Linked DNA regions of Homo sapiens. The protein of the gene in region 3 purifies or fractionates together with the protein of the main gene of each other region. This does not show direct contact. Each region holds a gene or a part of one and is shown on either strand. Other genes may lie near its edges.

Region 1 (4,125 bases), on a different chromosome or scaffold from region 3:
GGGGGGAACCAGGAGGCTGAGGAGGTGCTGAGACCCTACTGCAGCTCCCTCAGGCCCCCTTGGCCTGCATCCTCACACCCTGGGGTGGGGCTGGGTCCTCAGGAGGGGTGCTGAACGAGACCCCTCTCTCCCAGGAAGGCTCTCATATTCATTGGGTGACCCCCAGAGCACCAGACAGGCGGCACCCCTGGAGCCCTCCCATAGGACGTCAGCACCCAGCACCCCAAGGTGCAGTCCCTTGACTGATGGTGACGGTGACTGGTGCCATGGACAGGGCTCACCACGTGCCAGGTGCTAAGGACTGGTCAGGGAAGCTGCTTCCCTGAGGCCAAACAGCCTGGCATGGCAGAATCTGAAGGGACGCGGGGTCTGTGCCACACCATGGTGCCAGCTCGCCCTCCCTGGGAAGGAAGATCTGTGGCATGCACTTCAAGACCACCTCCTCCAGGCCCCTGCCCTGACACCGGGAAGGAACTGGCTCACAGCCATGCTCAGGAAACTGAAAAGGGCCCTGGGCTCCAGTCTGGAGCTCCTTCCAGTGCTCCGCCTAGATGCTGCCAAGGATCCATGTCAGCATGCTCCTCTCTGAGCCCTGGTCTCACCACGGACACCCCTCTCTTGACCCCGCCCGGCTGAGCATCTAACCGCAGCCACAGGAGGCTGAGCCACCACGTCTGTAGCACAGTGGTGGAGCCAGGTCTGCAGTCCTGCAGAGTCAGGGCCAGCTCTGCACTCAGGGAGTGAGGGCTGTGAATTCTGGTCCATGTGCACCCTACCCCATCCCAGAGCTCCCCCACATCCCAGAGCTCCCCCACATCCCAGAGCTCTGGCACACTCCATAGCCTCACCCCACCCACCCCTGCCCATCAGAATGACCCCTGTCCCAACTGAGAAGAATGGGTCTGGAGACAGGGTTCTGGTGGGTTCTCGTGGGAGCAGTTGGGCCCAAGCCTCTCCTTAGACCAGGGAGGCCACACAGCACTGGTGCCAAGTGAGGCCTGCGCCCCCTGCTGCATGACACTGGGGAGGACAGCCTTCTTGTGCCTCATTTCTCACTGGACCCCAGCCAAGCCAGCTCCTAGGCAGAAGGGTCCCGTCTCCCAGCGACAGCTGGTAGATGGCTGGCTGGGGTCGGCACCAGCTCCTGTGCCCGTATGACACTGCATTCTTCCAGATGGTAGTTCTCAATAATGGCAAGAGCGTCCTTTTTTTTGGAACAGGGTGTCACTCTGTTGCCTAGGATGGAGTTCAGTGGTGTGATCATGGCTCACGGCAGCCTTGACCTTTCAGGCCCAAGCCTCCCGAGTAGCTGAGACCATAGGCACACGCTGCCATGCCCAGCTAATTCTTAAAAAAAATTGTGTAGAAACGAATCTCGCTTTGTTGCCCAGGCTGGTCTCAAACTCCGGGGCTTAGGTGATCCTCCCACCTTGGCCTCCCAAAGTGCTGGGATTACAGGCGAGAGCCACCACCAGGCCGGCAATAGCATCTTAATACCAGGAATACTACTACTCATTCCTCTTGCCGCCTGCGGGAGCTACAGGGCCGCAGGCCACTCCTTCAGACTGGGGTGCTCTGGGCAAGGAAGAAGTGGCCTGCAGGGCCTAGAAGATGAGAGTTGGGGCTGGAACCATCTGCCCCTTAGGAACCGTGTGACTGGGCAAGTGACATCCCTGAGCCTCTGGCTCCCACAGGGCTCAAGGAGCTACTGGGGAGGGTACCCAGGACAGTGCCTGGCATGTGGCTGCTTCTCCTCAAACGCTGGCCATCAGTATGGTCAGCCTTAGAACCTAGGGACCTTTGGGGGACAGTGCTCCTCCTTCCCACTTGGGCAGGCCCCGTCCACTCAGCCCTAAGCGGCCTCCCGCAGCAGGCAGCCTGCCGGGCAGGGTGGCGGGAGCAGCTCCGGGGCTTCCCTGCTCTTGGCTCTGGAGTTCCCCAGCCCTGCTTCCTGGCAGTATTGGCCTGGCCTCTGCCCCACCAGCGGGCCAGCCCCTCCCTCAGCTCCACACCCGGTGGGTGGGAATTTCTGGGTTGGGAGTTTTGGGGCCACTGCCCCTCCCCAGCTCACTAGGCCTCTGGAGAGTGGGGCTGAGAGACCCCAGGCAGGGGGAGGACATGTGGGGAGGGAGGGGAGGAGGAAGGGGGCAGGTCCTGTCCCCCACCCTGCACAGCCTCTCACTAGCCCTGGGGTCCTGTTCCTACCATTCTTGAAGGCCAGGAACTCGAAGACACTGTGAACGATAGACACGATGATGGTGAGCGCCAGCAGGTAGGGGTTGGTCTCCAGCAGGGCCACCTGCAGGGGACACATGTGAGCACAGCCTGTCCCCACCCAGGAGCACCTTCACTAGCTTTTGTCCCGAGGGCTGCCCCTGGGGCCGCCTGTAGAGGGAGGCTGAAGGTGGGCCAGCCAGGAGGAGACTGGGTCAGAGATGGGCAGATGGGGAGAGAGAGGAGGGTGACTCACAAAGACAGAAGAGACGGGGAGATGGCACTAGGGGAAGAGGCAGAGGCCAAGGGAGTGCTGCGGGGAGTGGGTGAAGGGACACTGGGAGCCAGGAGCAGAGACCCAACAGTGACGACAGCCCAGGAGGCAAAGCCGAGCCTCACGCCACAGACACAGGCTGACATTTCAGGACCCAGTGAGATGGCAGAGACACAGAGTTGGAGCCAGGGCCAGGGACACAAGGTCTGGGACAGAAGGAGGAAGGGACAGGTCTGGACCCAAAGGGTCCAACAGAACAGCCTGGGGAGAGGACCCCCAGTCATCTAGGGCTGGAGGGCTGGGTGCCCACTTCCTTTCACTGTGGAGAAGGGACCTGGGAGGTTGTGAAACTGTGGGCAGAGGAGCACCAGGCGGGAGGTCCCACAGCCCAGGCCTGGCACACTTCCTCTTGGCCTCTTGCGCCCAGGAAGGCACCGGGAAGTCCCGCCCACACCGGCCGCACTCACCTTCACCGAGTCCTGCTCCTCATCTGACTGCTCGTACAACTCATCACCCAGGAAGTTCCAGGGCGACTTGGTGCTCTGGGCAGCATAGAGCTGCCAGCGCCAAAGCGAGAGTGGGCAGAAGGAGACGCGGAGCGGCAGGCTGGCCAGGCTCTCGTTGATGGGGTAGTAGTCCTTCTGCAGGTTCCAGTAGTCATTGAAGTAGATGATGGGATAGTAGTCACCGCTCACGGCGTCGAACTTCACATCTGCAGCACGTGGGGCAGGGGCACCATTTGGCCCGGGCAGGAGGCCAGGGTACCCGCAGGCCTCAGATGTCTGGAGAGACCCAACAGGGCCCCTCTACAGAGACTGGAGGACAGGGGACATTTCTAGGCCACACCATGAGGAGCTAAAGGGTGCCTTGACCTCAGCAGAGGGGACTGAGGCAAAGGGCAGGCAGGTCCCCACTGAAGGGGGCAGCTGTGGCTCAGCTCCAGCCCACGGCTGCCCTGTGGGTGACCATGTAACCCAGTTTTATAAAATAAGCCAGAAATTGTGGCTTTTAAGTGATACTGCCTCAATTTCAAAAGCTGGCAAGTGATAAGACATTTTTTGAAAACAGTTTGTGGGCTGGATGGCACTTGATTGCGGACCGATGCTGGCGTGTAGAAGTCAGTCCTGGGGTCCCCAGGGGTGGTGGTGTGGGAGAGGGAGAGGACATGGGAAGGGGATAGGACAGGGTGGGAGCTTGGGAGGGTGGAGCCCTGGAAAGCTCTCTCAGGGGGACAGGGCCAGGAGAAGACAAGGAGATGGACCCCGAGCACCCTCTCAAAGGCTCTGCAGGCAGCTGGCAGGGCTGGGGAGCTTACATTGATCCAGGGGAGGGGGCACACTGCCCTTCACCCACGGCGTGTGGTCGTCCACGATGTTGATGGTGATGTTGGGGTGCCAATGGGAGATCACCTCCACAGGCCCATAGTCCTCAGCCCTCTGAGGCAACATGGGGGGAAGGACCTCAGAGGCAGGTGGAAGTGCTCGGGGACTATCACTCTCTGTACACTTCCTCCCCAGGGTTCCCGAGAAAATCTTAATCTTTGCTTTCTTTTTTTTCTGAGATGGGGTCTCACTATGCTGCCCAAGCTGGTCTCGAATTCTGGGCTCAAGCACGATCCTCCCACCTCGGCCTCCCAA
Region 2 (4,125 bases), on a different chromosome or scaffold from region 3:
TCTGTCAGAGCTGTGTGTTTCCACTGAGCTCGGGTTTCTCCGATGTGTTTCTGTGGTATGCAGTTTGTCACAGGAGTATTTTTTCATCACTACTCTTTGATGATACAGATTGTGTTTCTGTTTTCTTAGAACTTTGAACTATCACCATTGGCAGCACCCTCAGATGCAGTTATCTAAAGTTCTTTCATAAATTTATTCATTCAACAACTATTTACCAGGATCTTGTTATGAATGAGAGGCTGTTAACAGGCACTGGAGACAGAGCAGGTACGAGGCTCTGCCCTCATGGAACCTTCCAGAGGGAGGAGAGAAAAGGAAGTGATCGATGGCCGATGGTGACGAGTACCTTAGGAAAAGAATAAACAGGGCTGGGTGCGGTGGCTCACGCCTGTAATCCCAGCACTTTGGGAGGCCAAGGCAGGCGGATCATGAAGTCAGGAATTGAAGACCAGCCTGACTAACACAGTGAAACCCCGTCTCTACTAAAAATACAAAAATTAGCCAGGCATGGTGGCGGGCACCTGTAATCCCAGCTACTCAGGAGGCTGAGGCAGGAGAATCGCTTGAACCCTGGAGGTGGAGGTTGCAGTGAACTGAGATCGCGCTACTGCACTCCAGCCTGGCAACAGAGCAAGACTCTGCCTCAAAAAAAAAAAAAAAAAAAAAAAAGAAGGAATAAACAGGCGTGGGGTGGGAAGTGAAGCGGGTGGGGGAGCCACTGGGGCAGGCTGGCCGCTGGCCATCTGGGAGGGCACATTACAGGCTGTGGGGGCAGCAGACAGGGTCCTCCATGGGGCGCACATTCAGGGGATGGTCAGAGCAGGGGCCAGAGTGGCAAGGGCAGGGCAGAGGAGATGGCATTAAGGGGTGAGGGCCACTGGGCGCTGGAAGGGCTTTCACTTGTATTCTGAGTTAAATGGGGAGCTGCTGCAGGGTTTGGTGAGAGCCAGAGTCTCCCACTTGCATTTTCGAAGGCTGTCTCAGGCGCCCTCGTGGAGGATTCTGCTTTGTGCTGTAGGAGGAGACCAGTCAGGAGGCAGTGGCTGTACTTCTGTGAGAGGTGAGGGTGGCCAGGGCCCAGGCAAGGGTGGTGAAGAAGTGGTTGCATTCTGGAAAGATTCTGAAGGTCATGAAGACAGGATTTGCTCACGTGCTGCGATATTGGGTACGAGCAGACCAGAGGCGTTAGGTACGACTCCGGGGCTTTCAGCTGAAAGCAAAGAGAGTAATAATTTCCTCAGGAGGGCACGACTTAGGAGGAACAGTTCTGCAAGGCAGGTGCTTGTGGGTGGGGGTGTTGGTGTCCAGGAAGCCATGTAAAGAAGTAATTTCAGGAAGCATGGAGTGGGCAGCTGCGTCAAAGGTTGGTATTGAATAAAATCAGGAATTGAGAACTGAGCTTTGGATCTGGCCATGGAGGGTGATGAGTGGCTTCGTCAGATGGAGAGTGGGGGAAGGCCTGGCTGGTACTAGGCAGGCGAGAGCCCTAGGCAGCAGACACTGCGACTCTAATGGGAGTAGGAGGTGGAGTTGCCTGAGGCAGGTGTGGGGCCAAGGGAGGTGCCAGGAGACAGCTACAGGAAGGGTCCAGGAGAGGAACGTTTGTCTCCCTGGGATGTCTTCAGACAATCGACTCTGACGCAGCCGCGTTCATCAAGAATCATGTTTGATACTGGGACTCCTTTGAGAGCCCGGAGGAAGTCGACTCCTATTTGGGGGCAGCAGTTAATGTGGTGTTGGCAGATTTCCCTACTTGAAGTAGAGGGATACTATTACTACCAAATAGAGTGAACGTCCACAAGCTTGCGCTGAGATGTAAACCGGCCTCCTAGAGTCACGTGTGGAAGACAAACCTGGCCAGCCAAGGAGTGCTTGGGAACCGGATGTGATGAGTGTCTGGAGGCCCCACCGAGCACCAGCTCTCACCCTGTGAGGTGGAGGACTTTGGCCATGGAGCCATTTTAGTCAAGACCAGGGACAACAGTGACTTGTGCTTTTCGTTTTTTAAAAAATAGTATGAGTTTGGTAGCTTTTGCATATTGCTTGTTTTGTTACTGTGTCCTTTTTTCTACGCTAAGAGTGATAAAAACACCAACAAAATTGGCCAGGTGTGGTGGCTCACGCCTGTCATCCCAGCACTTTGGGAGGCTGAGGCGGGGGGATCACAAGGTCAGGAGATCAAGACCGTCCTGGCTAACACAGTGAAACCCCATCTCTACTAAAAATACAAAAAATTAGTTGGGCATGGTGGCAGGCGCCTGTAGGCCCAGCTACTCGGGAGGCTGAGGCAGGAGAATGGTGTGAACCCGGGAGGCGGAGCTTGCAGTGAGCCGAGATGGCGACACTGCACTCCAGCCTGGGTGACAGAGCGAGACTCCATCTCAAAAAACAAAACAAAAAAGATACCAACAAAATCAAAACAACAATGGAAGGGTTATTTGCCTGTTCCAGAAGTAGTGGCTGGGGGAAGATGGGAACCACAGTGGATATGAGAGGAAACCAGCCTGTTAAAGGAATGCAGGAGCCTCCCTTGACTGAAAACACAGCCACAGCGTCTGGAACCCCCCCTGGCGGCCCATTGTCTACACCGTCGGGGATCCTTTTTCCTAAAACAAAATGGGGTATGTGTTCTGACACTGAAATACGTTTTAGAACCCACAGCCAGGCCCGTGCAGTCCCTCGGTGGCGTCCAGTCTGTTGGAGGCTTTGTGCCCACCCGGCTCTCTCAGTGTAGTGGGACCGGCTTTTTCTCACCTCTGGACTTTTGCACATGCTGTTCCCATCAGCTTGATGCTCTTCCTGCAGTTTTTTGCCTGGCGAATTCCTGGGTACCGTTTACATTTCAGCGTAAACATCAGACCTTCCTGGTCCAGCGCCCACTCCCAATCCAAAATCAGTTCCTCCCCATTACCAAAAATCCCTCATTGATACCCTCTACTTTTCCTTCCTGGGAAACTTGTAATTACAGCTGTAATGCAGTCACAGTTTGTAATTACGCTTGTGTGCGTGCGTGCGTGTCTGTGAGCCCTACTGGATCCAAGCCCCAGCAGGCAAGGATTGCACCTGCTTGCTCGCCATGCTGTGTCTCCCCTGGCACAGCGCCTGGCACAGTGCCTGGCACGTCGTCCACGCTCCATGGATATTTGTTTCGATGCATGCACAGGTGCACCCCCATAGCTTTGTGACTCTCTGATAGGCGGTGGGGTGTGGACACAGGCGTCCCCCCATCCAGGGTGGTAGGTGTAGCAATGAAGGATGCCAGCCCTGGAACCAGACTGCCTGAGTTTCATTTGCAGCTTTTACCCACTGGCACTGTGGCCCAGGTGCGTGACTCACCCTCTGTGTCTCAGTTGCCTCCTCTGGATAACAGTTCTGATGCTCATCCCTGCCTCATAGGGTCATTAGGGAGGTGAAACGAGCGAGCCGCCTAGTGTTGCTGGCTACTGGCACTTAGTGCAGAGCACCTGGTGCCGGCAGCAGTGGGGTGGGCCTGCAGGCGTGTGGGTTCATGCTTAGGGACTTGGTGCCTGCAGCAGTGGGGTGGGCCTGCAGGCGTGTGGGTTCACGCTCAGGGACCTGGTGCCGGCAGCAGTGGGGTGGGCCTGCAGGCGTGTGGGTTCATGCTTAGGGACTTGGTGCCTGCAGCAGTGGGGTGGGCCTGCAGGCGTGTGGGTTCACGCTCAGGGACCTGGTGCCGGCAGCAGTGGGGTGGGCCTGCAGGCGTGTGGGTTCATGCTTAGGGACTTGGTGCCTGCAGCAGTCGGGTGTGCTTGCAGGCGTGTGGGTTCACGCTCAGGGACCTGGTGCCGGCAGCAGTGGGGCGGGCCTGCAGGCGTATGAGTTCATGCTCAGGGACTTGTGCCACAGCACCCTGGACCTCAGTGGCTTGAGCGCCTGTGGCAGCTCTTTCACTGCTGTGATAGCAGGCCTGGGGCATGCAGAGCCACAGGGTGGGGCGAGCCTGCCAAGAGGCACAGCTGAGACCCTTCTTGGCATGGCTCTTCTGGAGTAGGAAGCTCATGTCAAATACCGAGGGGGTCTCAGGAAGGAAGTTGTTGCTTTGCAGACCAGTCTAATCACAAGTGAGTGTGGTCCCGGCAGAGGCTCACGCATCAGCCAGCTCGG
Region 3 (4,125 bases):
AAAGGAAAAAACCCACAAAAACAAACCAAAACAAAAAAAACCCACGTGGGTCCGTAGTGATCTCTCAAGTTGGCTACAACAGCACAAGGCACTCCAGTGCACTTTTGAAAAGCTACCAGCAGAGAGGTTACCAGGAGGAAGTTCTGGTTGCTTTCCTCCTCAGGGCCTGCTGACAGCCGGAGATGACACTGAGAAGTGAAGTGCCAGAAGGTTTTCATCGTACTTTGCTTTTTCCTGCCTTACTTGAACAGCTTTATTGAGGTCCAATTATAATAAACTGCAAATATTAAAATGCAGAATGTAAGTTCTGACGTACATACACCCTTGCGAAGCTCTCACACAACCCAGACAGTGAACATATTTATCCCCCACTGAGGTTTCCTTTGTACCCACCTGCCCTCCTGCCCTCCCACACTCCCCTTCCCTCTCTCTCTCTCTCTTTTTTTTTTTGTTTGAGATGGAGTCTTGCTCTGTCACCCAGGCTGGAGTGCAGTGGTGCAATCTTGGCTCACTGCAACCTCTGCCTCCCAGGTTCAAGTGATCCTCCTGCCTCAGCCTCCTGAGTAGCTGAGACTACAGGCGCACACCACCACACCTGGCTAATTTTTTGTATTTTTATAGAAATGGGGTTTCACCATGTTGGCCAGACTGGTCTCGAACTCCCAACCTCAGGTGATCTACCCACCTTGGCCTCCCAAAGTGCTGGGATTATAGGCGTAAGCCACCATGCCCAGCCACCTCCCCTTCTCTCTCTCTCTATTGCCAGGACATCAGTGATTCTGCTTTCCGTCAGTATAGATTAGTTTGCATTATTTAGAGTTTTATACAAGTGAAATCATACAGTATGAACTCCCTTTGGTCTGGCTACTTGGCATAATTGTTTGGAGACTTGTCCATGTTGCTGTGTGAATCGGTCATTCATTCCCTATTCCATTGGACGGATATTTCACAGTTAACTTATCCATTTACTACTTGATGGACATTTAGGCTGTTAGCAGTTTTTGCCTACCACAGAGTAAAGCTGTAATAAACACTCACATACTAGTCTTTATGGGGACATATACTTACAATTTTCTTGGGTGAATACTTAGGAGTGGGATGACTGGATCACATGGTGAGTGCATGTATAACGTCTTAAGAAACTGCCAGTTTTCCAAAGTGGTTTTACCACACATTATGCATTGGAAACCACTGTACTTTCAGAAAAGCAGGGTGGGGTCATGATGTTGTTATGGAAAGGAAGCCAACAGGTTGGCTTTATAGGATTTATGAAAGAGGCTATTTTTTTCGAGAACCTTGGGGTGTGATGCTGGACAGGTTTCCTTGAAATGTACTCGCTAAGGGTATAAAAGGAAATGCCCCAGCTCAGGCACAGACTTCGTCCTCGAAGGCAGTCAAGCTGTTGTTTCTTTGGTTATGTAGGGGTGGGCTTTAAAGAAATTCAAAACACATGAAAATGACAACTCGAGATTTATTTCAGTCAGTTCCGAGGCCCTGTGCATTAGGGAACTAGAACTCATTTTCTTCAGTACACAAACCTAGGACTTCCTTTTCCTGCTGAAGTCAGGGTAAAGAGGAGAAAGGTGGGTTCTGGGGGCACCGGGTCTTTTAGGGAGGGGCCCCAACCCCAGTGGGCACCACCCAGCCCTCATGTTCTTCTTGCCACCTGGTTACTCAAAGGCCCTTTTCCTGGGGAGTCCAGAGCCCAGGGCATTCTCAAAGCGACCACTGTCCTGTTAGCTTCGGTGAGTCCCTTAGCTGATAGAGCAGGGGGAAGGGGAACCAGTCAGCAAAACAGGACTTGACAGACAAGCTGAATCAAGGGAAAGGGAGCTAATGTAGAAAGGATGAGCTGGGAAAAATGTAACAGCCCACCTGCCATTCCTCATTTGTGGATGGGAGATGTACTAATTATTGTCTAAGTAGAAAGAAAACAAATGCTAGAATCAGGTGACCCTCAGAGTCAAAGAAGTGAATGATAACTTCAAAGGAGAGGTTCATTCATTTCTGTGTGGACTACTCAGATGATTCTGAAATCTAGAATACTATATAGACTCTAACTCCTGCTTGGAATATTTTTTTCAGAAGAATAAGCAGATTTAAAATTTAATCTCCATCTTTTTGGCATTTGGTTGTTACTATTCGTTTACAAGCCAGTCCACTTTTTGATTTTTGTCCCTTTTCCAGGAGCAGGCTTGCATCTGACTGACCCACCATGACACCCACAGACTTCACAGTGAGTACAGCCGTGCTCCTCTGGCTCCTCAAAACACACACTCATCTTCCCTTTTTAGGGGGTGTGGGAAGGATCCACTGTGGGGGAAGGATTTATCTGTGTGGTTTCCCAGGGTAAGATCTCTGCCTGGCAATGCGCATTGCTGGGTAGGTTGTTGTCCAGCACAGAGGGTTTTGCAAATGCAAAGAGGCAGCTATGCTTTGGGGTATGTTGTGGAGACAGAGGAAAATGTGGTGTTATAAACAGCTAAGGATTTTTAACCATCTTTAACTAGGGTGTGCTTAGTTCCATATGCCTGTTCTAAAACTCAGACAAATGAGGCAAAGGGAGAATTCATGTAATTTGCTTTTAAAAAACCCATGGTGGGCACATTAGTTGTATTTCTTGCATAACATTATGTAGACCTTATGAAAACACGTAACAGTATACATTCCCCTGAAAGAGACCAAGAGCTGAGCAAAAATTAGTGAGTCAGTCTGGGCGTGGTAGCTCACGCCTGTAATCCCAGCACTTTGGGAGGCAGAGGCGGGCGGATCACCTGGCCAAGGCCAGGATTTCAAGACCAGCCTGCCCAACATGGCAAAACCCCATCTCTACTAAAAATACAAAAATAGCTAGGTGTGGTGGCATGCGCATGTAATCCCAGCTACGTGGGAGGCTGAGGCACGAGAGTCGCTTGAGCCTGGGAGGTGGAGGTTGCAGTGAGCCAAGATCACGCCATTGCACTCCAGCCTGGGCAACAGAGCGAGACTCTGTCTTAAAAAAAAAAAAAAAAATCAGTGAGTCAAATCATAATCCAGAGAATCTTTTTTTCTTTTACAGCCGAATGTAATTAAGTGTAGAATCAAATTAATTTCCCATGCTTTTGTAACATTCATAAATGCCTTATAAAATTACCTAAGGGCTTTGATTTTGCTCTTCTCCAAGGGAAAGCCTGGGTTTTACATGTAGATAATTGAAATCCAGACTTCCTAGCAGGCGGGCTAACAAACTGCCTCACAGTACATTGTGGGTTTCCATGATCTATGGAGAGTGGTGGTTGAAACAGTTTATCAACTAAATTATTTATGATATGCTAATGATTCATTAGTATTACATATGTATAGTTACCTAATTGCACCTATATCCATAACAACAAAAAAGTAATTAATTTGGTCCTGGTGAAGTAACTATTATTCTGACAAAAAGTAGACTCTTCAGTTTCTCCTGCATTAAATTCACCTTTCAATCCCTGAGGCTGTGGAAACAGAAGTAGATGAAGGCAGCAGAGCCAGGGCTGCTTCTGAGCTTGCCAGTCATTTGCTTTTATCATTTGGGATCTTGGATAATAGCCAACTCTGCAAAGCAGCCCCAGATAAGAAGGAAACTGCACCTCAGTAATGACCTGCTCTTGTCAGAGGAGTCTGGCGCCATCTAAATGGGAAGAAGATGGGACCCCTGTGGCCCTGACTCCCATATTCCATGGAAAGTAGCCGTGGCACCCTGTGGCCACCTTTCTGAGGATGTGCTGGGCCAGTCACCCATGCAGGTGCCCCACATTCCCTCAGCGTCACAGTAAAGGCAGAGTCCTTTTTACAGATGAGGAGACCGAGACTGGGGAAGGTGGTTTGAGGGTTCAAGGTCTCATAGAAATTTGGAGGAATAGCCCTTGAGGGGTGCTGTTGGCAATCATAGCTTTGCTGGGTTCCTCCCTCAGGGTGAATGTCAAAGCACTGAAATCCAGGTCTCAATGTTGGGATTTAATACTTTCTCAAGTGTGGGGCCAAGGTGTCTGCCAGAGTCCCTGCTGATAACAAATTCATTTTTTCCCCACCTCCCTCCTTCTTGTGCCCTCTCTTATTCCATCTCCCCCATTGCCTTGTGCCCATTCTTGGTGCTAAGGCACAATG
Region 4 (2,868 bases), on a different chromosome or scaffold from region 3:
ATGTGAATATCTAGTTTTTCCAGCACCATTTGTTGAGGAAACTGTCAGTTTCCCCACTGTGTAGTGTTGTCTCTCTTTTCGAAGATCAGTTGACCATGTATGTGTAGTTTTATTTCTGGGCTTTCTATTTTGTTCCACTTGGTCATAGTATGTGATTCTTTCAACGTGCCGTTAAATTCTGTTTTCCATTGTTTCATTGAAGATTTTTGCGTCTGCTCATCAGGGATATTGGCCTGTCGTTTCTCTTCTTGTCATGTCTTTGGCTTTGGCATTAGGGTAATGCTGGCCTCATAGAATAAGTTTGGAAGTTCCTTCCAAATAAATGTTTTCGTCTTTAATTTTTTTGAAAGCGTTTAAGAAGGATTAGTGTTACTTTGTCTTTAAGTACCTGGTAGGACTCAACTAAAGAAGCCATCTGGTCCTGGGCTGTTTTTTTGTTGGGATGTTTTTGATTACTGATGGAATCTTGTTGTAGGTCTTACCAGGTTGTGTGTTCCCCCCCCGGATTTTCTATTCCTTGATGATTCAGTCTTGGTAGATTGTATACTTCTAGGAATTATATATTTTGTTCTAGGTTATCCAGTTTCTTGGCATATTTTTAAAAATGTTTTGTATATTTTTATTGAAATTCTTACTTTGTTCATGCATTGTTCTCCTGAGTTCGTTGAACATCTTCATGATAGTTGTTTTGCATTCTCTTTCAAATAATTCCTATACCTCTGTTTCACTGGGGTTGGTTTCCAGAGATTTATCTTCTTCCTTTGTTTGGGCCATGTTTCACTGATTCTCTATTTTCCTTAATTCTTTGTGTTGGTTTCATTGCATTAGAAAAAAAAACAGTTACCTTTCCAGTGTTCATGGACTGGCATTGTACAGGAGAACACCCTCATCAATCATTCTGATAGCCTCTCTAACCCACTCTGTATTATGTCTTTTCTGGACTTCTGCATATGTATTCCCAATCAGAGGGATTTGCTGGGTTTTTCCCTCCCCAGGAATTTATAATCTCTTGCTCCCTTTTGTGTTTATCTGCTGTATCATGGGTCTCCTGGAGCCAGTGGCATAGCCCAGCTCTTTTTTTGTTCATACTGGCCCCAGGCACCTAAAATATACTGGTCCCATCTGTGCTTCAAACCATTCCCTACAGAAACCATTCCCTCAGGTAACCTCTTACAAAGTTGGAACATTTTCACAGTCCATCTCTCCTCCCTAGGGAAAAGCTAGGATTTGGGGATGTTGGGGATTCTACCTGCTTACTCTGCACTGAGCTGGGGGAGCGGCTGTAGTGAGCTCATGCTTGCTAGTCCAAACTTCCACTTTGATTTCAGCAACTTCCAACCTGGGCCCTTTGTTTTTAGCTCTCGGACTCAGGCAAGACAGAAAACAGTCTCTCGTGCAGGTTCCAGAAAAGTCAGAATGTTGGATGTACATTCCAGTCATTTCCTTCCCTCTGCAAAAAGAAGCTGGGAGCTGAGGGTTTCCTCTCTATCATGTGGTACTGTGCTGGGTCCATGGGAAGGGAAGAATTATGGCAAGAGGGTGCCTCAGGTTTTTCTGCCGACTTTGATTCAGCTGGTTTCATGCTTTCCTATAGTGCAGAAGACCCTCAACTGGTTTCTGGATTTCCCACAAAGGGAATTTTTCCATGTGTTATTGAATCAGTGTGTCTGTAGAGGGAAGGAGTGTCCAGGGCTTCCTATTCTGTCATCTTGCTGACATCACTTTCTCCAAGGCCTTTTTTTCCCTTAAAACTGAAAAAGACCTTAAATGAATTACAGGAGAAACAATTTACATGATGGACCAGGAATCAAAATGGCATAAGGCTCTTCAACAACATCTTTGGGAGCCAGAACAAAGCCTTTGAATTCTGAGGAAAATCATTTTCAACCTAGAATTCTGTACTCAACTAAACTATCATTATGAGGGTAAAATAAAGATGTTTCTAGTCACACAAGAAGTAAAATAATTGATGTTCTATATGCAGTTTCTGAAGAAAGTAGGGGAAAATGTTCTCCACAAAAATGAGGAAGCTAGGAAAAAGACTTGGGATCTAGGAAATAAAGGGTCCAACACAGAGACAAGAAAAATTCCCAGTATGATGTAAGAAATTCTCAGGTTGGCAGCTGGGCACCAGGCTTGGATGGAGTGGAGAACAGAGAGCATCGGAAAGGATATTTTTAAGAAAAAGGGAAACATCTATAGATTATCTGATGTGATTGATTATATTCAAAAAGGATTTGTAGTTCTGTCAGTTTGTGATACAATAGTGAGAGGTACTTCGCAAATGAAGCAAAAGAAAAATGAAAATTAACTCTAAGGTATAAAATTGCCTAAGAAGGGAAATTTAAGGGTAGTACATTAATTATTTTAATTGAAATGGGATACTGTAAATACTATATTAAATTAAATGTAATTTTATTTTTTACATGATTTTTAAAAAGTGTAGTAAAAAACACATAACAAATCAACCCTCCTAACCATTCTAAAGTGCAAAGTGCTAACTAGGTGCACGTCTTTGCCCTCATCCTTCACTGGGTCTTCAAGTGAAATTCCTGAATTAGAGGAGTTACACATTTTTATTAAAGCCTAATCTTATGTAAATATTTGTTTACATAAGATCTTAGCTGACTCTATACATTTCCTTCTGAGTGCTGATTTTCTGTCCAGAAGCCTAGAGCTTTTGATTTAGTTGTTCTTGGGTGAGGTCTGGACATCTGTATGTTCAAAATCTTCACAAATGTTTAGGAACCATTTCTCTAAACATTTAATTAACATAAAGTACTCGTGGAAGATGTTTGCTTGGATAGTCTGTATAGAAGATATTTGGAATATAGATCATTTTAACCTAATATACTTCAACCTTTTTTT
Region 5 (4,125 bases), on a different chromosome or scaffold from region 3:
ATCAGGAGATAATATCTTAGCTGATACCTTTTAAATAACTCTCAGTATCTTTACTGAGAGGTTAAAAAATAAGTGACTTCTTAGGTAATATAAAGCTAAAGGTGACTAGTGTTTGATTCCATTATCTATTAAAAAAAGTCAGAATTGAAAGAAAGTTGAGAAATCCTTTGGTCTGACTTTGTAGATTAGGGAACAACTGCTGGGGTAGGATTATTTTGTGTTACTTTTTGAATTTTGTGTTTATTATTTTGAGTGTATTTTTTGGGTTGTCATTCCATTACAGGAAAGTATTATTTGGGCATGTTAACTTTGACATGTAAACTTAGAATTGTGAATAGAACTCATCTTTTAACATAATTTTATGTTTCTAAACTTTAAAAGTAGCTATAAGTGAACAAATTACTTTCCCCTCAATGTCAAATTTTGCTTCTCTGAGTTTTAAGTGATGAGTCTACATTTACAAATATAAAATTGTGTGCAGGTGAAAATTACAAGTATAATTTGAGTAATAAATGCAGGCCATTTTTTGGTTGTACTCTAGTACTCAGAAAATAGATCGGCATTAGTTATAACAGTGATTGTAGAAAAACGTGTTTTACCCAGACTTCTTAAAAATTAGATGAGAGAGGACACTCAAAGAAATTATACTTTTGTCATTAATTTACTATAGTGGAGAACTAAATCTGGGAAGTCAAAATTGAAAAAAGAATGTGTAATTTAGGGAAAGTAACTTTTTGTCTGATAATATTAATGCAAGGATTTTGTATTTAGGAATACTTCTGAGAGGAGAAGCTTCCACTCTGATCTAGTCTGGCAAAATTGAGGAAAATATTCTACCCTGTAATTAAAGAAGACTGCTCTTTGGAGGGATCACTGTTCTATATCTTTTTTTGTTTGTTTTTGTCTTTGAGGAGAAGTCTCGCTCTTGTCCCCCAGGCTGGAATGCAATGGCGCGATCTTGGCTCACTGAAACCTCCACCTCCTGGGTTCAAGCAGTTCTCCTGCCTCAGCCTCCCGAGTAGCTGAGATTATAGGCGCCCACCACCAAGCCTGGCTAATTTTTTCTATTTTTAGTAGAGCCGGGGTTTCACCGTGTTAGCCAGGCTGGTCTCGAACTCCTGACCTCAGGTAATCCACCTGCCTCGCCTCCCAAAGTGCTGGGATTACAGGCGTGAGCCACTGTGCCCAGCTCTTCTAGTTCATTTTTAAGTGTTGAGTCCCTGCTGTTTAAGAGATGTTTTGGTGAAAATCTACATTCAGAGAGAAACAGGTTAATCTTCCACATTTTTTATAAAATACATAAAATATAGTACTTGGCATTTTAAGAAAAGAATGCCATGTATTAAAAGGTGCTATTTTCAACTATTTATTATTTTAAAACAGGAATGCTTATCAATACTTTCGAATTTAAGATAAATGTCTTCGTTAAATTTTCTAGGCAGTTCAAAGATGGCCATTTGCTGGTGAATTTTCCAAAATAGATAACAGATAAAATGATTATGTAAGAACTTGGCACAACAGATCATTTTGCCTTTAGTCGTTCAAGAAATGATACTAAACTCAAAGTCATTCACTTGAAACAACTGAGAAGACCATTCTTAGGTGTTTAGATCCTTGCTTTTAGAAACATTCTTAGTTATATTTGTGTTTTCAAAAGTTATTGAGTAGATAGATATTTTTTCATGAATTTTTAAACATTAGACTTAGCTGAATTGATTAAAATTAGGTGATTATGAAAAAAATATTGCCCTGCTCGAGGGCATCTGGAGCCCTACAGTTACCATTACTAAAGTCTGTGAGTATGTCTATTTTGAAAAGTGTCATAAAAATATCTAGTCCATAAATCATTATAGGTTCAGTAATACATCATTTTGAACTGATTCTATCTTCTGTGAAATTCTAGAGATATGTTATCTTTAGGTAGCATGAGTAAGATTCAGGTATGCTGTGAATTTTGTTAACGTTTATGTTTTCCATTAATGGATAGTCAGGAATCTTTTGAACTGCGTCTATGTATTTAAATGATTTGGAAAGATAGCATCTCTCAGTTTAAACTTAGCATCTCATTTTGGCAAGATAAATTATTTTAGCTGTCTGGCCTTTTCTTTGTCTTCTTAGAGTTATTTCTGAAATGTGCATAGCCAGTCATAAAATAACTTGTGTAAATAGCCTAATGTAATTTATTTCTAATAAATACGTAGCTTAATGAAATGTATTTCTAGTTTGAACTTAATTGCCACTTGGCTTGATATTATTTTCCTTAGAATTGTTGGAAGAGAGGAGAGAGGAAGGGATCTACCATTTTTATTTATACCACCTAAATAGTGGACTGTTATTTTGGACTCACTTTTAAATAAAATATTTATTCACATGAAGAAATAAATTTTGTGTTTATTAGGTTAGCAAGCGTTTATTATCTTTGAAGTAATTGGAATTTCATTAAAAAGTGAAGCAAGTAAGAATTGTGATATAAATTTGAAAATTTTTAAATGGAAATTGAAATATGACTTAGGAACTGTGGGCTTGTAGAAAAAAACATTTAACATGGGAGTTAAGATTTTTATATTTGGTTGTGGCTCTGGGATCAATAAGGCAAGTGGTTTAGTCTTTAGTCCTCATTTCAAATGAGAATAGTATTTGTCCTAACTCTAGTCAGTGTCTGATTGGTATGTGTATAACCTTATTTTAAAAAGGATTCATTCCTGCCATATACTCATAATATTTATAAGTATGTCATATGATAAATATTGAGTAAATATATACTGAATGAAGTTTTTAGTATAGAGTGAAGTGAATAGAAAAAACATCCTACATAACCGTGGCTAATTTTAGGAAGTAAATCATGTTTCATAATAAGAGTCATCCTAAACATTTTTCTGTGTAATTTTCTGACCCAGTGTTAACAATTTTTATTTGCCTTAGTGCAAGCTTGTTCAACCCACAGGCCACATGCAGCCCAGGATGGCTTTGAATGCGGCCCCAACACAAATTTTGTAAGCTTTCTTAAAACATGATGAGATATTTTGTGATTTTATTTTATTTTATTTTATTTATTATTTTATTTTATTTTATTTTATTTTTTAGCTCATCAGCTATCATTAGTGTTCGTGTATTTTATGTGTGGCCCAAGATGGTTCTTCCAGTGTGGCCCAGGGAAGCCAAAAGATTGGAGACCCCTGCTAGCATTTAATGCTTATACATGTATTTACTTGTAAACATGTTGTTTCTTTGATAGGATATGATTTCAACATAATTACTGTTTATTTAAAATAAGAAAAACAAATAACTTTCAACCATTAAAAGGTTATAACACTTTAAAGGAAAGTTTCTTATTAAAGAAACTTTATACCCTATTAAGGGTATAATTTCAAAATAATTGCTTTTTATTTAAAATAAGAAAATATTCTTATTTCTATTTAAAATAAGAAAAATCAGTAACCTTCAACGAATAACAGGTTAAAGAATTTAAAGGTAAAAGACATTTCAACTAATTACAAATACTTTGTTTTTTTTAGTTGGGCTACATTTTACCACTCTAGGAATAGCTGTTAATTATTTTTTATATAGGGCATTTTTATGTATTTAATGTTGACAACTGACGTTTCCAATATACAAAAACTTGTGTAACTGAGAAAATTATAATAAAAATAGAGATTGAGGACATATTTTTAACATATATCCATGAGTCAACACTAATATTTAATATTTGAGATTTGAAAAATTATTTCTAGGGTAAGAAATTCTGTCACAATATAATATCTCTATATTGTGCTTTTTTAAGAGATAAATTTTTGATGAATTTAATGTTAATTAAATTTTATCTCAGCCTATCACCATCAGACCAAAAGACAATACAGTATTTTTCTAACAAGGAAAAGAAAATACATATATATATATTTATATATACAAATATATACGTATTTATATATACAAATTTGTATATATGTAATGTATGTGTGTGTGTATACATATAATTTCTCCTTTTTTTTTTTTGTAAGAATTGAGACAGGGTGTCACTATGTTGTGTGGGCTGGTCTCAAAACACCTGCCTCAAGTGATCCTCCCACCTTGGCCTCCCAAAGTGCTAGGATTTACAATGAGCCACTGTGCCAGCTTCCAACAAGA
Region 6 (4,855 bases), on a different chromosome or scaffold from region 3:
TCCCAGCACCTTGTGAGGCTGAGTGAGGAGGATCACTTGAGCCCAGGAGTTTGAGACCAGCCTGGGAAACATAGCAACACCCCATCTCTACAAAATATAAAAAAAAATTAGCTGGGCACTGTGGCGTGCACCTGTAGTCCCCAGCTACTTAGGAAGCTGAGATGGGAGGATCACTTGAGCCCCGGAGGTCGACGTTGCAGTGAGCCAGGGTTGCATCACTGCACTCCAGCCTGGGCCACAGAGTGAGACTCTGTTAAAAAAAAAAAAAAAAAAGATATATATATATATATATATATATATATGTATGTGTGTGTATATATACATGTGAATGATGATCCCTTATTAAAAAATAAAAATAAGGCCGGGTGCAGGGGCTGACATCTGTAATTCCAGCACTTTGGGAGGCTGATGCAAAAGGATTGGTTGAGGCCAGCAGTTTGAGACTGGCCTGGGCACATAGCAAGATCCCATACAAAAATTTTTAAAAATTAGCTGGGCATGGTGGCGTGTGCCTGTGGTCCCCAGCTACTGAGGAGGCTGAGGTGGGAGGATGGCTTGGGCCCAGGAGGTCGAGACTGCATTGAGCAATGACTGTGTCACTCTACTGCAGCCTGGGTGACAGAGCAAGAGAGCCCCCCCAGCACCCCCTACAAATTTTTTTTTTAAAAATTAAAAAGGCGCGGTTCGAGAAGAGCTGTAGTCGTCCCAGAGCTACAGTGCAGGTGATATCAAAATGCAGGTGAGAAAACTGGAGACAGAATACAGTAACGGATACAGGTGCCCCTGAAAAGGTGCAGAGGCGCTAAGGACGCAAGCAATCCTGAACGTTCCAATCGTTCGTTTTAAAGTTGTCCTGGCCAACCCGTGAAGCCTTGTATGAGGAAATGTTTCAACGAGGGCGCCTGACGCAGTCCCCGAGGCCAGAAAACACCCAGGTTTAGATACGGGCTCTGACCCGCACCTGCCACAGCCAAATCCCTCCCCCTTCTGAGCCCGATCCCGTGTTGTCCTCCAGGGGTAAGCAAAACACCTGGCAGGGCTGCCTGAAGATTAGGGAAACTGAGGAGACGCGGCAGGTGCCCAGTATTTATAGTTTTGTCCCCAAACGGGGGAGTTATTTGTAAGCACTGGCTACTACCCCCGTCAATCACCTAATTGTCCAAAAAAAGGCAAACGGAGGGAATGCGCCGCAGCTGAGCACCGCGCAGGCCGCAGCTGAGGTGCACACCCGGGTGTGCCCTTTGTATTGCTGGAAGCGCTGGCGATCATAGGGGCAGAGGGCTGGCGTTGGGGCGGCCTGGGACCCACCCGGCCCCGCCCCCTCTCAGGCCCCGCCCTCCCCCTCCTCCACCGGTAGGGGGACCTCGGCCGGCCTGGGAGATCGGGGCGTAGGGGGAGGTGGGGGTGCATCCGCGAGCCCTAAAGGTCATGACCCTATGGGGCGTCTCTGGGTCGTCGTGGGGGATGGGCGGGGGGGGGGGTCTCCCCGCCACGGGAGGTCTAGAGAGCAGCGGCGGCGGGGCGGGGCGGAGTGCAGAGGCGCCGCCGGCGGGGCGGCTTCGGGAGGGCGCGGCCCCTTTAAGACGCCCCGCCGGCCCCGCCCCCGAGCCCCGCCTCCCGCCGCCCACGTGACCCCGGTCTTGTGACTGGGCCCGGGAGGGCGGGGGAAGCCCGCGGCTCGCGCCCGCCCCGCCCCGCCCCGCGTCTGCCTCAGAGGGGCCCGAGCCACCCGGTCCGCCGCGTCCCCGCCGCCGCCGCCGCGTCCCCCGCCGGGGCCGACCGAGCCGAGCCGGGCCGGAGCGGCGGGCGCGGCCGGGCCGCCATGGACCACAAGCCGCTGCTGCAGGAGCGGCCGCCCGCCTACAACCTGGAGGCCGGCCAGGGCGACTACGCGTGCGGCCCGCACGGCTACGGCGCCATCCCCGCCGCGCCCCCGCCGCCGCCCTACCCCTACCTCGTCACAGGTGGGCCCGTAACCAACTTTCCCCGCCGGCGGCTTCCGAGGTGGCAAGCCCGGTCGGGGGACGTGGGTCCGGAGGCGGGTGGGGCCCGCCCGGGGGTCCTTCCTGGAGCTGGAGGTCCCCGGGCTGGCTTCGGGACCCGGCGCCGCCGAGGGCCAGCCTCCCCCCCGGGGCTCTAGTCCTCGGGCCCGTCGTAACCCGGCGGGGCCGGATCCCTGCCCCAGATGAACTTTGTGTCACGAGGCGCTCGCTGTTGGCAGATTAGCGCCGAATCAGGCCCGCGGTGGCCGTCCCGAGGGTGGAAAAGACCGGGGGCTTTTTTAGCGGGGTGGAGGTTGAGGGGACAGGATGAGTAGTCCCCGTGGCGGTCCGATTTCTCCTCCCTGCACCCTAATGACCTGCTTTCCCGCCCACAGGGATACCCACCCACCATCCCAGGGTCTACAACATCCACAGCCGGACCGTCACCCGCTATCCTGCCAACTCTATCGTGGTCGTAGGAGGCTGTCCTGTCTGCAGGTGAGTGGGTCTGCAGCCTGGGGACTGGCCCTGGAAGCTCTGAGGACCCCCGCCCTAACCCCCAGGACCTCACAGCTCTGCTTGTGGGAGTGGGTCCGGCTTGACTTGGATCTTGACCAGAGCCCTTTATGGGAGGGACAGACAGGCTGCCCGAATGCGGTGTGGGAGAGTGCGGGTCCGCTCACCCTTGGCTCTGAACACATTTTGTGGGGGCAAAAGGGTGGATTCCTTTTCCTAGATCTTGGGGCATTGCACCCCAAGTGATTGGGATGTAGAAATGGTAACAACGGGACTCGTGGTCCTTTCGTCTTTGTTCTGGGACTTGCAAGGAATCAGGTGTCTGCTTTTTCCTTCACTTTCCGCAAGTTTACTCTGCAGTTGATCGTCGAAGGTGGTGGAAGGTTTCATTTTCCCGGAAGGGGCATTTGGAAGTAAGTGCACCAGCAGGACAGACCTCAGTGGGAGAAGCGACGGCCGTAAGAGCTGCTTTATCCAAAGTTGGCTTGAAACGCTCTTCCACGAGCTGGACCAGGATGGAAACCCCGTGTTTCTTTGAGGCAGGAGTTATTTTTTTCATATCCTCGCATTGGACCTGCACACGCTTTTTGGTTTTTATAGGGCCCCGAGGTGCAGCTAGAGGCTTGTTTTGTGGAGGTTTTGAGGATTCACATTTAAATAAGGATTAATTAAATATAAACCCTTGGCAGCTGGGGGTGTTCAGATTGCTTAGAAAGTAGGGGCAGAGTTGGCCGGGACAGGGTTTTCAGCTGTGTCTCGGAGGAGGAAGTTGAAGCCACTGAGATGGAATTAAGAAACCCTGGTTTGGACTTAGACTTGATTTCAAAAGTGTGTGTGTAAGGCCTAGAGTGGAGTCACGGGGAAGTGAGTGATTTCAGAGCCTTAGCAGGCAACTTCCTGGGAAGGAAGGGCAACCTAGAGGTGGGGACAAGAGGCTGGGACCTCGGGGGCAGGTTGTGGCTGCTTGCCTGCACAGGGACCCCGTGACAAACCCTAACTGGGACGTCAGTTTGACACAGTTGGTCACCACCCAGCAGAAACATTAGCCTTTGGAGTGAAGGTGGAGGGAGGGCAGGGTGGGGCGCTGGCTGCCTTCGGGACATAGTTCTCTCCCGGAGCTGCACCGGGTTGGGGGGCTGGCAGAGCTGTGTGAGTGTGAAGGCACATGGAGGGGACTCAGAACATGGAGGAGCAGAGGGTCTGCCTGCGTGTCATTGTCCATGCCCTGCCATCCCGGTGTCCAGCCTGCCGGAGGAGCCGGGTTCCGGTCCTGGTCCTGCCAGGAACAGCGGGGCTTGTTTCCCCACCTGGGACGTGGGGGTGTCTGGTGAGGTGTCTCTGAAGCTCTTAGCTCTTCTCTGCCCAAACCCCTGAACTTGGAGAGGTGAGAGACCAGCGGCAGCGAGGGATGGGCCAGATATCCCAGGGCTGGGGGGCGCCGAGGTGGTGGCGCAGTTGCTGTCGGTATGGGGGCACTGGCCCTGCCACTTCCCCTTCCCTAGGTGGGAACTGTGTCCCTGCGGAGGCCCATGGCTTCCGCTAACCTGGAGGTGCTCTCCAGTTATGCAGAACCTGGAGCGGGGTCAGACTGTGCTCTGCTGGGAAGGATCTTGGGCTCGGCCCTCAGAGGCTGTAGGGGTGTGGGGTCCTTGGTTACTTAATCACTGCTCTCTGCCTCTGGGCAGCTGCACCAGGCAGGGTGGAGGCTGGGTCCTCTCTGGACAAGGTTGGGGGGTCCTTAGTCCTTTAAGTTGGGACCAGAGCACTCTTGGATCCTGCGGCGACCCCTTGGGTTGCAGCCAGGCCCTCCCAGCACACACGTCCCTGCGCTCTGCCCGTGGTGCCTTGGATGCTGGAGAGTGGCTCTGGCTCCCCGAGGCTTTGCCTCTGCAGCTGCATTGGGCATGGGATGGGCCCCTGTGCCCTGTGGCAGCCAGAGGGCGAGCAGGGGGCTGGGTGCTCTGCTGCTGGCGTGGGTGGGGTGTGTGGTCCCTGGGCCACTCCTCTCTGCGAGGAGAGTGGAGACGGTTCCCTGAACACACAACACACACGTCTGGCCGCTGCCTGGCGTCTTGGCCCGGGAGACAGGATACCACTCACATGACCACACTTCCTCCTGCCCCAGGTCCAGCCCGCCGGGCTCTGTCCCCCTCCCTGCCTGGTGGCATGGCAGGAATTTGCCCAAGTCACACATCTGTTAGTCCTTCTGAGTGAGGCTTGGCCAGAGAAGCCCGTGTCCCTTGTGGCTCTGCTGCCCTGGCCAGGCCTTCGCTGAAGCTGCCTGACTCCATCTTCCCTTTCTAGCCGTTTATGAGGAAGCATTTCCGCAGCCTGGCGGCGGATATGTCCCTGCTCCT
Region 7 (4,125 bases), on a different chromosome or scaffold from region 3:
CACCGTAGGAATGCCGCTGGCCCGGTGCCCCGCAGGAGACCGTCTGCTGGGAATCTGGCTTCGGGAAGTGGGTGCAGAGGCCAGGCTGGCCACGGCACGCTCCCCGCAGACAGCTGGGCTCAGGCCTGGCGCGTTGGGTGCCGGGGCTCTGACGTGGGATGAAGCAGCTGCCCGGTTTGCTGAGCACCCTGACACCCAGGCTCTGCATGCTCGCAGTGGTGGGCTGGGACCCGGGCAGCCCAAGTGGGCTCCCTTTGAGGGAGGCGCCATCTCCTTCCTCAGTTGGGGGAAGCCAAGTGAGGCTGTCCTGGCAGGGGCCCCGAAGCCTGGCCTCTGGCCCCCAGGGGCTGAGGAGCGAGGCTCCGTTTGCAGCTGGCCCCATCCAGGCAAGAACAAGAGAAAGCTGCCTCAGCCAATCGCGGTGCTCACACCTGTAATCCAGCACTTTGGGAGGCCGAGGCAGGTGGATTGCTTGAGCCCAGAAGTTCAAGACCAGCCTGGGCAACATAGCCAGACCCTGTCTTTACAAAAAATTTTTTTAAAAATTAGGGCAGAGGCCAAGCACAGTGACTCATGCCTGTAATCCCAGCACTTTGGGGGACCGAGATGGCAGATCACCTAAGGTCAGGAGTTCAAGACCAGGCTGGCCAACGTGGTGAACTCCCCGTCTCTACTAAAAATACAAAAATTAGCCAAGTGTGTTGGTGCATGCCTCTAGTCCCAGCTACTCAGGAGGCTAAGGTAGGAGAATCACTTGAACCTGAGAGGTGGAGGTTGCAGTGAGCCGAGATCATGCCACTGCACTCCAGCCTCAGTGACAGAGACTCTGTCTCAAAAAAAAAAAAAAAAAAAAAAGAAAGAAAGAAAAAGAAAATTAGCCAGGCGTGGTGATATGTGCCTGTGGTCCAAGCTACTTGAGAGGCTGAGGCAGGAGGATCACTTAAGCCCAGGAGGTTGAGGCTTCAGTGAGTGGTGATCGTGCCACTGCACTCCAGCCTGGGCCACAGAGCAAGACCCTGTCTCTAAAATAATTTTTTTCTTTTCTTTTTTTTTTTTTTTTTTAAATCGTAGACTTGGGCTGGGTGTGGTGGCTCACGTCTGTAATCCCAGCACTTTGGGAAGCTAAGGCGGGCAGATCACCTGAGGTCAGGAGTTTGAGACCAGCCTGGCCAACATGGTGAAAACCCATCTCTACTGAAAATACAAAATTAGCCAGGCATTGGTGGCGGGTACCTGTAATCCCAGCTACTTGGGAGGCTGAGGCAGGAGAATGGCTTGAACCTGGGAGGCGGAGGTTTCAGTGAGTCGAGATCACACCACTGCACTCCAGCTTGGGCATCACCAGTGAAATTACATCTCAAAAAGAAAAGGCTGGGCACGGTGGTTCACGCCTGTAATCCCAGCACTTTGGGAGGCCGAGGCGGGCAGATCATGAGGTCAGGAAATCGAGAGCATCCTGGCTAACACAGTGAAACCCTGTCTCTATTAAAAATACAAAAAATTAGCCAGGCTTGGTGGCGGGTGCCTGTAGTCCCAGCTACTTGGGAGGCTGAGGCAGGAGAATGGCGTGAACCCGGGAGGCGGAGCTTGCAGTGAGCTGAGATGGCGCCACTGCACTCCAGCCTGGGCGACAGAGCGAGACTCTGTCTCAAAAAAAAAAAAAAAAAAATCGTAGAGTCCCCGGTACTCCAGCTCCTGTGCTGCCTTTTCTGTTTTTCTCAGCGTCTCTCACCATCCAGCAGGCTTCACAGTTCACTTACGATGATGCTGAGTGCCTGTGTTCCCTCACCACCCTGCAGGCGGCGCCAAGGGCAAGGGTGCCTGGTGCTTAGCAGCCTCTCCCCACCGGGCATGGGCGTCCCCTGCCCACTGCCCCTGGGCATCAGCCCTCTGCACCAGGGCAGTGCCATCTGAGGGACGGGCTTGCCTCGCCCAGATCCTGTTTGGCCAGGGCTTATCTCGCTCTGCCTCCGTTTTCTCATCTGGCAAGTGGGAGTGGGTGGCTCTGGCGCCGCTGAGGAAGTGATCTGGACCTGGAAGCCCTTTGATGTACGCTGATGCCCCGAGCTCTGGGTGGACATGCCAGGCCGGTGGCTGCGGAGGTCACACCTGTTTAGGCTCTGCGTAATGCGTGTCTGGGATTGACCTGCTCTTCCAGTCCCCAGCTCCTCACCCCAGGAGGAGTTTCCCTGCGAGGCTGTGAGTCCCAGATGTGGGGTGCAGTACAGACAGGCCCTCCTAGAGTCATGTCCCACCGGAGCACAGGGTCGGGGGAGCGAGGGTGACTCCAGCCAGGGACTGGGGAGGCCTCTGCAAGTGGAGAGCAGAGGGAGGGCTCGCTGGAGGAGTCTGACCAGCCCGGGGCCAAGATGCGGCTGGTTGACATGGCCCCCAGGCCATGGGAGCCCAGGGGAGGCCCTGTGGATGGAAGTGCAGACGTGGGCATGGGTCCTGTGGAGCTCTGGTCCCGGGGGGCATGGTCAGCTGCCCCTACAGGTCTGTTCTGCCGTTGGCCTCTGAGCTATAAGGAGGGTACTGGCAGGGCCTGCAGTCACAGCCGGTGGGGTCAGCACCTCCACTCCATTCCCAGCCCCACACAGGCAAGGGCAGACCCAGGGAGCCCCAGAGCGTGGCTTTTCCAAGCTCCCTAACGTTTATAGACAACCCACTGAGCACAGAGCATGGGTACCGTGCTGGGACTGTTAATATGAGGCCCTGCCAAGTGACTGGACTGTCTCCGCCTCCCTGTGTGATCTTGGGTAAGCCCTACTGGGCCCTGAGGACCCCTCTGTGACATGAGCTCCCTGGGACCATGAGACCGCCCTGAGCTGATTCAGTTTCAGTGGCTCTGGTGCCAGCCCTGGGTCCTGCCCCTGGAGGGTGGGGGTGCAGGGCCCAGCAGTCCTCCTGCCATTGCAGGGGCGGTAGGCACTTGTGCATGGCTGAAGGAGTGGGAGGGTGCCCGCCCCTGATGCTCTGCAGTGCCCAGATTGCTGGCTGCTGGGCAGCCGTGGACACACCGGTGTGGCTTTGGACCATGGCGGCTCATTTCTGGGTGTGCCGGGCTGGTCAGCACCTCCCTGGCTGGGTGGAGGTGGAAAGGCCGCCTTCGGGTGTGGACGTCGGCCGGCTTCCTGGAGGGCAGGACACGGCATCCTCCCACTGCCTGGCAACCGTCTCCTGGGAGATCCAGCAGCAATCCCATTGCCCACTGTGGCTGAGCCTCTCATCCCAAGGGGGGGCCAGGCAGGGGACCATCTGCCCCAGCAGCTCCCAAGGCTGGGGTCCCAAGAGGGCCACACTGCTGAAGCATTGAGATGTGGGGAGAGAGGCGTTTCTCTGCAGTAGTGCCAATGAGGGCAGCGCAGGTGTGCCTGGTGGCCACCCCACAACACTGAGGGCCCCAGCTGCTGACACCCCCCAGGGCACCCCCAAGTTAGCCTCTAGGTGGTCCCTGGCCCCATGATGAGGCGCAGCCCTGTATCAGCTCCCCATCCCTCCCCCGGCACAGGAAGTGTGTGGAGGTTCTGGAGGGCTGAGCCGGGGGCAGGGCTATGCTGAATCCAGGGACCTGGGGTTGCAGGGCCTGTGTGCTTTCTCTGTAGCTTCTATGAAGCCCAGTTTCCCTGTGGATGAAATGGGGTGAGAGCACTCGGCCAGGCAGATCGAATGCAGTGCCAGGAGAAGGGACAGCTCTGGGGCCACGTTACCCTCCCTCCCCGCAGCGGGTGCTGAGGAAATGTCACTGTTGCATCAAATTAGCCACTTCCTGTGGGGGTCGCCTGGCCTCGGGACAGGGGAGCTCTGGTGTCTGTTCTGTGGTCTGTCTTTTGTGTTCAGAGACCTGGGGAGAGCCACACTGGAAGGCCGTGCTTGGAGCCAGACAGGGCTGTGTGTCCGATGGGGCGCCTGTATGCAGCCTGTAGCAGTGTGGGGCCAGCCCCACCATCTCATCCAGCGTGGGGGCACGCCATGGACGGTGCCCACCCCTGAGTGCAGCTTCTCGGTGCACAGACCCCAGACAGGATCAGACTCCTGATGGGGCCTCTTCCATGTTCACCCCTCAGAAACACTTTCATGGTCAGCAAGAGGGGGTTCAGTCCCCCACAGGCTCCCAATTTCCCT

The links.
Region 1: the proteins of CCR9 (region 3) and CLPTM1 purify together in Homo sapiens (co-immunoprecipitation; one large-scale study listed by IntAct). This does not show direct contact.
Region 2: the proteins of CCR9 (region 3) and PIGG purify together in Homo sapiens (co-immunoprecipitation; one large-scale study listed by IntAct). This does not show direct contact.
Region 4: the proteins of CCR9 (region 3) and TMEM87A purify together in Homo sapiens (co-immunoprecipitation; one large-scale study listed by IntAct). This does not show direct contact.
Region 5: the proteins of CCR9 (region 3) and ALG10B purify together in Homo sapiens (co-immunoprecipitation; one large-scale study listed by IntAct). This does not show direct contact.
Region 6: the proteins of CCR9 (region 3) and BRI3 purify together in Homo sapiens (co-immunoprecipitation; one large-scale study listed by IntAct). This does not show direct contact.
Region 7: the proteins of CCR9 (region 3) and TTYH3 purify together in Homo sapiens (co-immunoprecipitation; one large-scale study listed by IntAct). This does not show direct contact.

Annotation. Positions count from the first base shown.
Region 1 is NC_000019.10:44,986,254-44,990,378, reverse strand, and holds part of CLPTM1 (putative lipid scramblase CLPTM1), read right to left. Parts: intron 3,925-4,125; coding exon 3,804-3,924; intron 3,201-3,803; coding exon 2,956-3,200; intron 2,300-2,955; coding exon 2,206-2,299; intron 1-2,205. UniProt on the Homo sapiens protein: Involved in GABAergic but not glutamatergic transmission. Binds and traps GABAA receptors in the endoplasmic reticulum (ER).
Region 2 is NC_000004.12:516,210-520,334, forward strand, and holds part of PIGG (GPI ethanolamine phosphate transferase 2, catalytic subunit), read left to right. Parts: intron 1-129; exon of another isoform or gene 130-227; coding exon of another isoform or gene 228-267; intron 268-4,125.
Region 3 is NC_000003.12:45,892,719-45,896,843, forward strand, and holds part of CCR9 (C-C chemokine receptor type 9), read left to right. Parts: intron 1-1,498; exon of another isoform or gene 1,499-1,583; intron 1,584-2,187; 5' UTR 2,188-2,215; coding exon 2,216-2,236; intron 2,237-4,125.
Region 4 is NC_000015.10:42,211,760-42,214,627, reverse strand, and holds part of TMEM87A (transmembrane protein 87A isoform 1 precursor), read left to right. Parts: intron 1-2,868. UniProt on the Homo sapiens protein: Potential monoatomic ion channel gated by mechanical force, implicated in normal touch sensitivity through the generation of mechanically activated currents.
Region 5 is NC_000012.12:38,323,142-38,327,266, forward strand, and holds part of ALG10B (dol-P-Glc:Glc(2)Man(9)GlcNAc(2)-PP-Dol alpha-1,2-glucosyltransferase), read left to right. Parts: 3' UTR 1-771; coding exon of another isoform or gene 772-783; 3' UTR 784-4,125. UniProt on the Homo sapiens protein: Dol-P-Glc:Glc(2)Man(9)GlcNAc(2)-PP-Dol alpha-1,2-glucosyltransferase that operates in the biosynthetic pathway of dolichol-linked oligosaccharides, the glycan precursors employed in protein asparagine (N)-glycosylation.
Region 6 is NC_000007.14:98,279,974-98,284,828, forward strand, and holds the start of BRI3 (membrane protein BRI3), read left to right. Parts: upstream 1-1,712; 5' UTR 1,713-1,822; coding exon 1,823-1,964; coding exon of another isoform or gene 1,965-2,004; intron 2,005-2,377; coding exon 2,378-2,480; intron 2,481-4,855. UniProt on the Homo sapiens protein: Participates in tumor necrosis factor-alpha (TNF)-induced cell death. May be a target of Wnt/beta-catenin signaling in the liver.
Region 7 is NC_000007.14:2,641,705-2,645,829, forward strand, and holds part of TTYH3 (protein tweety homolog 3), read left to right. Parts: intron 1-4,125. UniProt on the Homo sapiens protein: Calcium-independent, swelling-dependent volume-regulated anion channel (VRAC-swell) which plays a pivotal role in the process of regulatory volume decrease (RVD) in the brain through the efflux of anions like chloride and organic osmolytes like glutamate.